Linked DNA regions of Homo sapiens. The protein of the gene in region 4 purifies or fractionates together with the protein of the main gene of each other region. This does not show direct contact. Each region holds a gene or a part of one and is shown on either strand. Other genes may lie near its edges.

Region 1 (2,367 bases), on a different chromosome or scaffold from region 4:
TCAATTGTGTCATCGTCCATCAGTGCTTTTACATTGCCTGTGATCAAACTTAATAACTGTGTTATTGATGAGCCCAGTATAGATAACATCACTGAAGATGCTGACAACCTCAAAAGTAGGTCAAGGAATTTGTCAATGGATTCCCTTGTGGTTCCTTTGCCCAACACCAGTGAATCCTTCCAGCCCGTCAGCACAGTGCTACCAAGGAATAATTCCATTGGGGAGTCGTTGTCGAGTCAGTACAAGTCATCTATGGCTCTCGGACCTGGGGCTGGACAGCTCTTGTCTCCTGGGGCTGCCAGAAGACAGTTTGGGTCCAATACATCCTTGCATTTGCTCTCGTCACACTCAAAGTCCTTGGACTTAGACCGGGGTCCCTCCACTCTAACTGTTCAGGCAGAACAACGGAAACATCCAAGTTGGCCTAGGTTGGATCGGAACAACAGCAAGGGATATATGAAACTAGAGAACAAAGAAGACCCGATGGATAGGTTGCTTGTGCCCCAAGTTGCCATCAAAAAGGACTTTACCAATAAGGAGAAGCTTCTTATGATTTCAAGATCTCACAATAATTTGAGTTTTGAACATGATGAGTTTTTGAGTAACAACCTAAAGAGGGGAACTTCTGAAACAAGGTTTTAATGTTAAAAGAATATATCATTTTACAAGGGTATATATTTTAAAACGATTTTCACTGGTGTTTCCTTCTTAAAGTATTGGCTGTAAGCCTTTTTAATCAAATGGTTTGTAGTGTATTAGAATTGGCTGCTTAGTTCTGTAATGAAGATGGTTGTATGTTTGGGTTACTTGTGACTGCAGTACTCTATGTTACCACACATGATTTTATTTTTCTCTTCCTTTGAAAGCATGATCTCTTTTATTAATATGAATGCAAAATGCTTGCATCCAAATTAAAGCTTATTTTCTTTACTTTTAAGTTCTTTGATTGCCCTATTCATAAAATGAAATGTCCAGTATGGAAAACATAGGGTACCAAAGTGTGGACCAGGAGTACAAATTCAGTCCCAATACTCAATACGTATTATAGATGACTATGAGTGCAAACCTTAGGATGTGATTTTCTGAATAATTGTTCTTTGTAGGATTTGGTTACATTATTTAAAATGAAAAAGATCTAGTTTTAGTGTGAGCTCAGTAATGTTAATTGGTTAAGTTCATTGTGAATCTTGAGTTTTAGATAAGTAGTTATTTTTTTCAATATCACTTCTGTTTTTAGTGATATTATATCAAGAAACAACGTATTCAAGAGCCATGGCTGACAGTGCCAGATATACTTAGGGATAAACATCAAAATGCAATTATAGTTGCTATAACGTTAGATACTCGGAATCAAAATTTATTTGCAAGCTGACTTGATAAACTAAATGAACCAATAAAATTTGTAGAAATGCTATCCTGAAATAATTATATACATGAAGACAATGTTGACTAATGAATTAAGATACATTATATACTAGTTAATGCTAACTAGTCTCAGTACCTGTTTTTAGCCATCTGTTACTGTCCAATAGCACCTCATTCCCACATTCTATTTTCCCCCGGTATTCTTTAGATCCTAGTATTTGGAAAACAATCGGCTAACCTTGACATTTCTTTTTACCTTCATATGCCACTATCTCGGTAGTTCAAAAAAATTTAGTTCTTGATAAATTGCCTTGAAGTTTACCTTGTGCTGGAGAGCCTTATGATAACTCCAAAGACTTTCTTACGGTATAATACATGTTGTTTAGGATTGTGTTTCTTAGTCACTGAAGATAATAAATATTAAAATGGATGTTTTCATCAGAAAATTTTCATGTTTTCCTTTAAGGTAACATAATTGTAAGAATTGTTTAATAAAATACTCAGGAAATTCTAAAGGTTTCTCCCAATACCTAAACATTTCTGAACATCAGTATTGCAGTTGTGGAAGAGCAGAAGGAGGATACATTTGTTTGTGTTGCTCCCCAAAATTCCACCTTGCATTTGCATCACAAACTTCCCTCAATTGAGGCAGTTTTCTTTGTTAGAACATTAAGTCTGTGTATTGTAATAGAGTGGGCTCAATATTTTACTATAAAGCATTTAATAAACTGTTATTAATAGAAGTTTGTGTTCTTCACACCTTTGCTATTGCTTTTTAAATAAAATGTACATTTCTGCTTAAAGTACTGTTTTTCACACTTTCAGATATATTCTACTGAGGGCACTTGATACCCTAGTACATGTACTGAGTATCTCGGCTTTTAAATTTTGCTTCTATTCGGTTAAAGAGCTAGGTCTATCCACCTATTTAATTAGACTGTTTTTAAATTTTCTTATCTTGGGATCGTTTTCACTTAAAGTTTCATTGACTCTCAGGAAAAT
Region 2 (4,389 bases), on a different chromosome or scaffold from region 4:
TGACTTAAATACTTATTAGTATTAGTATTGTTATTATTTTTTGAGACAGTCTCGCTCTGTTGCCCAGGCTGGAGTGCAGTGGTGCAATCGTGGCTCACTGCAGCCTCGACCTCTTGGGATCAAGCGATCTTCCCACCTCAGCCTCCTGAGTAGCTGGGACTACAGGCATGCGCCTGGAATATTTTTGTATTTCTTTTTTTGTAGAAACAGGGTTTTGCCATGTTGCCCAGGAAGGTCTCGAACTCTTGAGCTTAAGTGATATGCCTACCTCGGCCTCCCCAAGAGCTGGCATTACAGGCTTGAGTCACCACTCCCAGCCTGAAGCATTATTATTATTATTATTATTATTATTATTATTATTATTATTAGAGACAGAGTCTCACTGTGTCACCCAGGCTGGAGTGCAGTGGCATGATCTCGGCTCACTGGGACCTCTGCCGCCTGGGTTCAAGCGATTCTCCTGCCTCAGCCTCCCGAGTAGCTGGGATTACAGGCACCTGCCACTGCGCCCGGCTAATTTTTGTATTTTTAGTAGAGACGGGGTTTCACCATCTTGGCCAGGCTGGTCTTGAACTCCGACCTCAGGTGTTCCACGTGCCTCGGCCTCCCAAAGTGCTGGGATTACAGGTGTGAGCCACCGCACCCAGCCAAAACACTATTATTAAAATCACTTATTTGTAAACAGGTAATATTTGCACATGATAAGTACAAATCATTTAGTAAAAAGTCAACGGTGACAGGCTTGCTTTGTTTTATTCCCTTTCGGCAAACAGGTGCCCATTTCCTCGCATTTTGTCTATGGTGCCTTTCTTGCAACAAAGGCAGAGATGAATAGCTGCTACAGAGACTCAGGGCCTACATATCAGAGAACATTTTCTATTAGGCCCTTTACAGAAACCTTCGCTGATTTTTTTTTTTTAGTATTTTACCATTTCAGACAATGTTGCTATGCTATCTTTGTATATCTGTCATTTTGCACATGGGAGTTTCTGTAGAATGAATCTCTCTATGTGGAAATGCTAGGTCTTAAGGTGTCAGCATTTGTCGTTTTGATAGGTGTTACCAAATAGCCCTCTAGGGAAGTTGAACTAATTTATACTGTCTTCAGCGAAGCATGCTTGGACCTGTTCCCCACAGCCTCCACTAACCTTGTTAACATCTTGATACTTGCCGATCCGAGAAGGGAAACACGATGCTCATTGTAGTTTTAATTTGCATCTATCTGATTATGAATAAAGAGTTAGCATCTTTTCAAGTCTAAAAATCTTAAAAACAAAACTCCTGAACTTTTCCCGCCCAACAGACTCAAGACTCGTGACCCGGCCGTTGGCACGACGCGGGACGCCGGTGTGGCAGTGGCGGAAGAGGCAGATATCGCGGACCACCCCCGCGCCCCCCAATTCCTTTCAACCAATTCCCTCCCAGCCGCGGAGCCCCGCCCCCAGTCCGCCTCTGGCCAGCTTGGGCGGAGCGCACGGCCAGTGGGAGGTGCTGAGCCGCCTGATTTATTCCGGTCCCAGAGGAGAAGGCGCCAGAACCCCGCGGGGTCTGAGCAGCCCAGCGTGCCCATTCCAGCGCCCGCGTCCCCGCAGCATGCCGCGCCCCCGCCTGCTGGCCGCGCTGTGCGGCGCGCTGCTCTGCGCCCCCAGCCTCCTCGTCGCCCTGGGTGAGTGGATCGCGCCGCCCTCTGCCCCTCGCCCCTCCTCCCCGCGCCGCTCGGAAGTTTGCCCGGCGCCCGCCCTCCACCTCCACTGTTGACAAACTTAGACAAAGCCCCGGGGACCGGGCTGGGCAGAGGGGCGGCTTCTTCCGCTGCGCCCTGGCGGGACAGGGGGATGCGGCCCTGCTGTCTCTGCGCTGGGGCTTTTGGGCTGGGACTCGGGACATCGGGTGACAGCCCTGCCGCCCCCAGGGATGCGGCTTACAGATAATGACAAAGGAATCCGCTGTGTCGGGCCTCTCTTTTCCCTGGTGAAAAATGAGGCCAGGGAACTGCGTTTGACTTTCGAACCCCTTCCACCTGGGAGATTCTAGGACTCTAGTATGGATAAGTCTTGTCTGGATAACTTTGTCCTGGCCATCTCCCTGCCAACTCCAGTTGGCTGGACAGTTCATTGGATTTTTGCGCTCCCAATTGTCCGTGCCTGGTCACATAAGGGAAGGGCCGGGGAGTCGGTGCAATGGACGCAGGCCGTAAGTGGGGCCCGGGAGGGGACCCAGAGGCTTCGAGGAGCTTGGAAGAGGGCTGCCTGCTGATGGGAGTCTCCTGACTCCCTCCCTCCCGCGGCCTTGGCCGGCTGCTGTATCTTCCCCGGTCCTCCTCCGCCTCCCAGGAGGCCTCCGGAGGCCAGCTGGGCCCCTTGCAGGCTGGACTTGCGGATGCCCCGTGCCATTCACCGTGGAGCGCTGGGAGGGAGTCAGGGCCAGGACTCTTTAGGTGGCCCCTCCATCATTTTCTCATAGAAATGGGATTGACTGAAGCAAGGTAGGTAACAGCTGAGCCCCAGCCCTATGTCCTGTGATCTGCCTGACCCTCGGGGCTAGAGCTTCCAGAGTGCTCCAAGCTCCCAGGAACTTGGGAGCTCCTGGCCCTCCCCGGCCACCATGAAAGACAGCTGGATCTTCTTAGCCCCTTTCTACTCTTCCCTGTACCCCCCAACCTGAACTCTGGCCAAATGTTACTGGAAAGTCCCCGAAAGAGCAGGACTCTGAAGTCCCAAAGATGTTTTTATACAGGGTGATGTGGCCTTTTCCAGAAGGAGGAAACACCATACCTATCTTACACACAGGTAACGTGGCTGGGTAGAGTACACCTTTCCCTTTCCCTTTTTCCCACTGGACCGTTTTGCCCTGGAGCAGTGTAGGGAGAGGGCCGGTGCAGTTGGGAGGGAAGAGTCCATTCCCAACCCAAGCCTCTGTCTGTGTCAATGCTCGCCCCCGCCTGCCAGGTCAGAGGAAGGATTACCTGCTATTTAAAGCCAATGACTAATAGCTCCTTGGGAGCCACTTTAAGCTCCTGAGGCCCCTGGAGGGGGAGCTCTGAGGGCAGATCGCTCATTAATGGTGTTGTTGCCTTCCCTGGAGTGGGATGAAGGGGCTTTGAGATTTCAGGAGGACTCTCCAGCCTTAGATGGGTGACTCTGAGGGGGAGGCAAAAAGGTTTTTTTTTTTTTCTTTTTTCTTTTTGAGATGGAATCTTGCTGTGTCGCCCAGGCTGGAGTGCAGTGGCGCGGTCTTGGCTCACTACAAGCTTCGCCCGCTGGGTTCATGCCATTCTCTTTCCTCAGCCTCCCAAGTAGCTGGGACTACAGGCACCTGCCACCACGCCCGGCCCGGCTAATTTTTTGTATTTTTAGTAGAGACGGGGTTTCACCGTGTTAGCCAGGATGATCTGGATCTCCTGACCTCATGATCCTCCCACCTCGGCCTCCCAAAGTGCTGGGATTACAGGTGTGAGCCACCATGCCCGGCCAAGGCAAAAAGATGTCTCATGTCTTGCTCCAAATGACAGATTTGGGTGTAGGGTCTGGGGCAGCCCTTCTGGGATGCTAATGTCGGCTAGAGGACTCCTGTTGGGCCCGGCCGACCCACCAGAGTCAAGGGATTGAGGACAGGCCCTCCTGTTCCTTCTCCTGTGTTCTCCACCACCGGGGCTGATAGTGTACATCTGTCATCCAGGTTCCCATCCAGAAGCCCTGGTGGCCTCTCCAGCCCTTGCCCCCTGGTGGTTCTGAAATCACCCTTCCTTTTCACTCCTCTGCCCTGACTTCCTCTCTCACCATGCTCTCCTGCTCTCCACCTTCACCCTCTTCAGTGGGATTTCTGCATTTCAGCCAGAGGGACCTGTCTGCAGCTACCAGATGCTCCCCACCCTGGGAGAGCTCAGCGGCATGTCTGCACATGGGCCTTTTCAGCCTTCTTCATCCCGCAATTGGAACTGACTTTCCCACTCCCATCTCACACTTGAGAATCTCTGTTTCTTGTTTCTTGTTTTTTATTTTATTTTTATTTTTTCTCCCCCCTGGTGGACAATGGTGAGGAGGGTGAAGGAAGGTTAAAAGCCACTGCTCTACGGGATGAAAAACTAAACTTGTCATTCTTCAGATCCCTCCCAGTCTGGCCCCAGCCTACCCTTCCAGCTGCATCTAACTGTGCTCCAACATACCACACCCTCTGTGCATCTGCTTTTCTTGGAACATTCTTTACTCATTGCCCAGTCTGGCACCCCCCTTACTTTGTCTTCTAGACCCAGCTCAAATATTCCCTCCTCTGGGGAACTTCTAATTCCCCAGCAGAAATCATGCCTCCAGTGACGGTCCATGCAGGCTTCTGGAGCGTTGGGCAATCTTCCTCATCTGTGGACTTGCTGGCCTCTTTCCCCTTGGCTTC
Region 3 (3,557 bases), on a different chromosome or scaffold from region 4:
TAGTAATAACCACTCTATCTCACAGATATCCTAAATGTTGAGCTTTGAAGCTTGTGAAGGATTAGCTGTGAACAAGAAAGAAAAAAGACAAATATCTACATCACAGAAGGGATTAGAGAAGGAACTAGTGTTTGGTGCAGATAATAACCAAAATAGTGGAGAAGAGAGAATGACAAATGGTTGCAAAATGATCTGCCAAAGTGCAGCAAAGTATGAAACCTGCAGCATTACAAAAACTAAGTTGCAGACTTGCCATATAAAGTGTGGCGCCCATTGCTTTTCAAGCCTCCTGGACCAGTAATAGGCAGCTTGAGTGGGAAGACCACAGGAGTAGCTTAAATGGCACTAAGAAATCGCTATCCCAGTGGTCTAGTGTGGTCAGGAAGTCAGTGGTTTGAAGGTGGAACCAGATAAGGACTACAGGCTGTAGTCACAAATTGTTCTTCCAAAACACTGCCCTTGCATTTTTTTCCCATTGTTTATAGCTGCAGATGCCTGACTACTCCAGTGTAATTAAAATATAGCTCTGCAAAAGAAAGATGTTCCATTAGCCCCTGCCTCCCCTCACCAGGAGACAGCCTTCTGTGGTTTCGTTTACAATTTAACATGGTTTACTGATATACCTACCATATTTGTTAGGATTTTCATATTGAGTCTTTTTCATTTTATTTTCTAATGGGTTTTGTTCTCTTTGTTTTTGTTTCAATTTACTTAAAACAAAACGCACGCCTCCTGCATTGGCCACCTGCTGCGGCACCAACCCCTTCATGCATTGCCCTTTTCTTGCTGCTGTGTTGGGATGGTGCGCGCACCACCCTCACTCACCCTCCATTTCTTGATCACTCTCCATGTTCTTGCACCTCTGCCTTCCACTTCCTGGTCATAGACGAGCTGTACGCTCAGAAACTGAAGTACAAAGCCATCAGCGAGGAGCTGGACCACGCTCTCAACGATATGACTTCCATGTAAACGTTCATCCACTCTGCCTGCTTACACCCTGCCCTCATGCTAATGTAATAAACTCACCACCATGCCTTCCTTGCTCCCTAATCTCCATCTTTGCACTCTTGTGTTCACCCTTTTTGTCATAACCTAGAATAGTCATTGTTTTTTCACTTTCTGCTAATATAAAGGCCAATTAGATTAAGTCTGTCTATACAAACCATTTTCTTTTCAGAATCCGTTTATTTTGTAAACGCTGAACTAGAGCAGTGAACTAGAATGAGTGACCTTGAGCACTGTCCTTTTGGGAAATTAAGCTAAACTCAAGTAAAACTAGAAGGCCATGCCGTTTGTTGTACAGGAACTTCTCAAAAAATATCAAAATTTGTTTCCTGAAATTCAACTAAGTACAACATAATCATTTTCGTTAAATATAATTTGAAGGAACCCTTAAAGTGTCAGGTTATTGAGAATCTGAGGATAAGGAAATTGGCATGATCCAATACAGCTTTAACAGTGGTACTACAAAAGATCATCTCTTTTACTTTTAAGAATTCTAGAGTAGGCCGGGCACAGTGGCTCACGCCTGTAATCCCAGCACTTTGGGAGGCCGAGGCGGGCGGATCACGAGGTCAGGAGATTGAGACCATCCTGGCTAACACGGTGAAACCCTGTCTCTACTAAAAATACAAAAAAAATTAGCCGGGCGTGGTGGTGGATGCCTGTAGTCCCAGCTACTCAGGAGGCTGAGGCAGGAGAATGGCATGAACCCGGGAGGTGGAGCTTGCAGTCAGCCGAGATCGCACCACCGCACTCCAGCCTGGACGACAGAGCGAGACTCTGTCTCAAGAAAAAAAAGAATGGTAGAGTAAAAAGAACCCTCTGCTGAGTAACCAAGCCTTTAATTTTGTGTTTTTATGAAAGGAATTAAAATACCCACGATAAATATTTACCACAACCTGTGTCAAATAAATGGGAAATTAAACACAGATTGTACAATGTGAGCTTGGGAGTTAATGGCCCAGATTTTACTGTTAGGCAGTAAGAGTTGGAGTAGGTAGTCTTGTTATCATGAGAAGAACCTTGAACAGATACAACTAATTTACATATTACTAACCAAACTTAAACATTAAACTTTTTCTACTACTTTAAATTCTAACCTGGAATGTTTCAGAGTTCTTCATTCTAATATCACCCTGAATTCCATTGAAGCTGGAAATGTCATTTTCCAAGCCCACCTGTCATTCATTTACCCATGCAGAAAAAATGGTAACTTGAAGAGAGTGGCATGTGCCTGCTGCCTTAGAGGTTATAGAATCCCCACAGTCAACAAAAAAGCCTCTAGAGACATGACTGTTGCCATGGAAACCAGAGAAAATGTGTCTTCTCATCCCTCATTTGTAAATGAGGGGGTGGAGCAGATCATCTGTCTCTAAGGTCTTTTTCAGTGCTAAAATGTGGTGATTCTTTGGGAAAAACTTTTTGCATCAAGTATGATTAAATATTCTGAAAGACGAGTGTAGCTTAAAATTTTTTTTGTTTTTAAATTCTGTTCATGGGTCTTCTTAAAATGGACCCTTGCCGAAAGGCGGCCTGTGACGGCCTCAGGTGGGAAGATGGATGTCCTTCCAAGGGTGTGGCTGGCAGTGGGGTTTGCATGACTGCTTCTTGTCTGTGTTTCAAGTGCTCTCATCTATTGGTTTGGTTTCCTTTCTTTTTTTTTTTTTTCTCATTGTGCCACTTTTTTTTTCCTCCCACCTTTTTATCTTCACGCAGATAAGTTTCTTTGCTTCACTTCTCCCAAGACTCCCTCGTCGAGCTGGATGTCCCACCTCTCTGAGCTCTGCATTTGTCTATTCTCCAGCTGACCCTGGTTCTCTCTCTTAGCATCCTGCCTTAGAGCCAGGCACACACTGTGCTTTCTATTGTACAGAAGCTCTTCGTTTCAGTGTCAAATAAACACTGTGTAAGCTATTTCTGTTTGCTATTCTTTTTACTTCTTATTTATTGACATTTTAGTTTCAACATTGAATAAAACTACAAAGCTGCTTCACACATATGAGGGTTAGTGTTTGGCTGCTGCTTTTTCTTTTTAAATACTGAACACTATACAGAATTATATCAGGAGTTTCTAAAGCAGTAGTTCCTTGTTGAACTTCAAAAAAATACCCAGGCCTGCATTCCCTCTCAGAGTTCTGATTTTCAAAGGTTAGAATGAGGTCTGGACATCTGGGGGGGTTTTGGGGGAATTGTGATGGCTCTGCTTTGCAGTCTGGGTCACACAGGGGACATTGCTTGTTGAGAGTTGAAAGGTCTGGCTTGATCAGTGTCTTCCTTTGCTGGAGGTTTAGCTCGGGATGTAGTGACCCCTCTGTGTTGATTATTTCGGTGGCCTTACTTGGGAGGACCTGGCTAACTAATGAAAGGCTCATGATGAATGGTTCTGTAGCTGTCCCATATTACTAGGAAGTTATACATTGAGAAGGGTGAAAAAGAACTTGGATTCAAACAATGTAAGTTTTGGTTATTGTCGATCATCCTTTTATAGCACAAAGAAAAGTTCAAGCTTTTTTGAAGTATATTCATGACTCAGCCACCTTTATTTTGATCATGAA
Region 4 (3,591 bases):
AAAATTTGCTTCATATAAATTATTTATATATCTGCATACACATATGTATATGTGTAGATGTATAGGTGGCAATGTAAAATGCCTTTCTCAACATGGAGAAATGGTCCTGATCACAGACATCCTGTACTTTGAGACACCTGGCTCTATAGTCTTTGAACTCTGTCCTTGCATCAAATTAGATCACCAAATAGCTACATTCCCTGATGCATTGTGTTAACTTACTGCAAAAAGTCTTTCACAGATAAATGGCCCCTAATATTTTAAATCATGAGAGTTTGATAATATAAATGATCAGAGGGAAAAAGTTGTCTCTACAGCCTGTGTAAAAGCACTCTTGAGTATACTGTCTGTTTTGCAGGTCAATGTCCCTTATCTAATGATCTGTCCAATAAATTCATATTAGAAACAGGTGCTAGGGCAAAAGTTTGCTTCTGCTTACTCACTGGTGTATTTTATCTTATTAGATAAGAAGTACACACTTCTTACCTAACTTCTCAAGTTTTTACCCATGCAATCAGATGGTGATGGTTCCTTCCTTAAGTTTTCTGGTACATGTGTATTCCCACTTCATTATAGGACTCTTATTCATTTCTTCTTTAGTGTCCTTATCATAAGCTGAGTCTTAACTGTAAGCCATTTCAAATATGTTTTTGAAGATGGAATATGTGAATAAACATATTTTTTATACCTTCTCTCCACCATCCTCTGGTACTCCACTCTTGCCAAGAACCCTCTGCACCTGGCCTGGGTTCGGGTAATCAGCTGGGCCAGCTTGTCATCTCGCATCTCCTCTAGGAGCCCCAGAAGACCAGCTTTGAAAAAGACCTGTGAATGGAAAGAGTTGCAAATCACAAGCTTTAATAAAGTTCAAAGGGACAGGAATAGCATCAGGTAGGATTTACAGAAAATTACCTTGGTGTGCCCAAATTTATACTGGGTGTGGTCAATGTCGATGGATGCAAGGAGCTTCTCAGAGGCCTTCTTGCTATCAATGAATTGCCCTTCAGGGATTGCACTTGCATTTAATACCTTGTATCTGTTGAAGTACATATAGCTTTTAACAACTAGTTTACTGATGACACAAATGCTAGCTAAACATTAAATGATTCATTTTTTAAAGCAGAGCTTTAAAAAAATATTATTCTTTGTTCACAAGGAGAACATTGTTTATTTGAATGGTCAACCCTTTGGCAACCAATTTTTATTCCATTTGCCTTTCCCTCGCAGTTGCAACTTTCCTTTCTGTCTCATCAGACCCTGTTCTTAGAAAAGGGTTCTGCCTTAAGAAAGGGACACATTATGGTGTGCCTAACCAATAAAATGTAATCTGTTATCTTTACTAGATGCATTTGCTTTTTAAGGCCCTGAATCCAAGAAAGCTACTTTTCATTGAAGAATTTGGTAGACAGTACACTTTAGGTATTCAGAACTATCCTAATCACCTAAAATCAAACTTAGACATGCTTTGGATCTTGAGCCCTGGAATCCTCTGTCAGTGCCACCTGACCCAGACCTGGGAGAGATCAGCTCCTAGCAGCTGCTACCCAGTCCTTCCCCACCTCTGCCTTTTCTTTGATTCTCAAGATGGGCTTATCTAGAGAGGAGAAAAGGGACCTGAGGAACAGTCATTGTGACATGTTCCCTCTGCCTCCAGGAAACCCTGGGAGTCTAATATGTGGGAGAAAAAGACGAACATAGATGATACCAAAGGAAATGACAGAAAATGAATAGCTATGTTTGTATGGAAGAGTTTCTAACTCAACCACTTAATAACTGTGACTTTGGGCAAGTACCTTAATTTCCCTGAGCCTCAGCTTATTCATCTATAAAGTGAAGTCTTAATAGTACCTACTTGCACTGTGTTTTTGCGAGGATTAAACAAGATAATCTGAACATATTAAGCACTCAAAAAGGTCGTTCTTAATTATTATTGGAGTTAACGTGTGCATCTATGAGCTAAGCTAAGTGCCTGATAAATCCAATGAAAATTCCACAAGGTGCTTAAAATTTTGTATATTTATATTTTAAAAGTATTTGAGGCTGGGCATGGTGGCTCATGCCTGTAATCCCAAAACTTTTGGAGGCCAAGGCTGGCGGATGACCTGAGGTCAGGAGTTTGAGACTAGCCTGGCCAGCATGGTGAAACCCCATCTGTACTAAAAATGCAAAAATTAGCTGGGCGTGGTGGCATATGCCTGTAGTCCCAGCTACTTGGGAGGCTGAGGCAGGAGAATCGCTTGAACCCAGGAGGCAGAGGTTGCAGTGAACTGAGATCACGCCATTGCACTCCAGCCTGGGTGACAGAGCAAGACTTTGTCTCAAAACAAAAGTGTTCGAGACTTGAGACTTGTAATTTTTTTACTTCTTTTTGTGACAAAACTAACAAGTAGAGGCATATGTTTCACTAAATTGTTTTGCTTGCATTAAACTTGTTCATATTAAACTTCAGAATACACCATAATCAGGAGAAACTGACCTCTGTTTGAAGTCTGCATAAAGGATTCTGCTTGGAAATCCTTTCCTACAGATGCGGATGCCTTCCAGCACACCGTTACACCTCAGCTGGTGGAGGACAAGCTCATGCTCCATGGCACCTAAAAATGCATATTTATTTCACTGCAGAGCTGTTGAAAAGGAGGTGTGGCAGTCATCCTTTGCACTTTCATTATGGAATTTCTTACCAGGAGTTTTTGTCTCATTGGGGATGATACACCTCACAAAGTGAGGATGGGTACTCCTGAGGTTGGTCATCAGCTTGTTCAAATTCTCCTGTAAAACCAGGAAAAATCCTGTCATTTTAGGCTCTAGACATGGATATGAGCAGTCATTGGTGTCTATAAAATCAATATCTATAGCTGAGTTGAATGACCAGTATGGACTGCATTCATATAAGGCAACACTTTGAATGCTTCTTCTGAGATGCTTTTTCCTCCTCAATAGATCTTTCTGCACTTGAGTTTCCGAGAGTTACACACAGAACAAGGAAAGCATCCTGGCATGTGCTTCTTTTCAGTTTATGCCAACACCATCCTTTCTACCCTGGTCCCTGGCCATACACATACATTTACAAGGCCATTGCCTTCCCATGCGAGATGATCGCTCTTTCTTCTACCAAATTCCATAGTTCTCCAATAAGGAAATGGAAGCCTGCACCACATTTGGACGTTTTCCTTATAATACAGCTCCTCTTTTCCAGCTCTATCAATTTTTAGGGGATAGAGATTATCTACAGGGGAGCAATCCTACCAATTATAATTGAAAATTGACTCGATTAAGAGCAAGGATACCATATTAGCTGCACTGCAGATTTGCTGCTAGAATTCATGAGTTCATTAGCCATACTGATGTCTTTTAGTCTCTCTGAGTTCATGTCATTGCTCTTTTTCATGGCTCAGCTAGATTATGAATGGCAGAGTATTATGGTCTATAAGATTTTCTATAAAATATTTCTCATTATTTGACTTAGCATGAAAAGTGAACTAATAATTTCTGAGTAATTTAAATCCCTTCTTTCCAAAGTTAGATCAACAGAGTCACTAGTTACTATCAGTCCTTTTCTAAACTACTCATGGAATGATCTTGTACTTTTAA

The links.
Region 1: the proteins of MYH2 (region 4) and TMEM200A purify together in Homo sapiens (co-immunoprecipitation; one large-scale study listed by IntAct). This does not show direct contact.
Region 2: the proteins of MYH2 (region 4) and MFGE8 purify together in Homo sapiens (co-immunoprecipitation; one large-scale study listed by IntAct). This does not show direct contact.
Region 3: the proteins of MYH2 (region 4) and TPM1 fractionate together in Homo sapiens (co-fractionation; one large-scale study listed by BioGRID). This does not show direct contact.

The regions. Positions count from the first base shown.
Region 1 is NC_000006.12:130,441,257-130,443,623, forward strand, and holds the end of TMEM200A (transmembrane protein 200A), read left to right. Parts: coding exon 1-642; 3' UTR 643-1,811; downstream 1,812-2,367.
Region 2 is NC_000015.10:88,910,524-88,914,912, reverse strand, and holds the start of MFGE8 (lactadherin isoform a preproprotein), read left to right. Parts: upstream 1-1,533; 5' UTR 1,534-1,593; coding exon 1,594-1,666; intron 1,667-1,744; exon of another isoform or gene 1,745-2,465; coding exon of another isoform or gene 2,466-2,485; intron 2,486-2,736; coding exon of another isoform or gene 2,737-2,789; intron 2,790-4,389.
Region 3 is NC_000015.10:63,063,178-63,066,734, forward strand, and holds the end of TPM1 (tropomyosin alpha-1 chain), read left to right. Parts: exon of another isoform or gene 1-886; coding exon 887-965; coding exon of another isoform or gene 966-969; exon of another isoform or gene 970-2,718; coding exon 2,719-2,722; coding exon of another isoform or gene 2,723-2,810; 3' UTR 2,811-3,001; downstream 3,002-3,557. UniProt on the Homo sapiens protein: Binds to actin filaments in muscle and non-muscle cells. Plays a central role, in association with the troponin complex, in the calcium dependent regulation of vertebrate striated muscle contraction.
Region 4 is NC_000017.11:10,532,597-10,536,187, forward strand, and holds part of MYH2 (myosin-2), read right to left. Parts: intron 2,770-3,591; coding exon 2,682-2,769; intron 2,595-2,681; coding exon 2,477-2,594; intron 1,037-2,476; coding exon 913-1,036; intron 826-912; coding exon 689-825; intron 1-688. UniProt on the Homo sapiens protein: Myosins are actin-based motor molecules with ATPase activity essential for muscle contraction.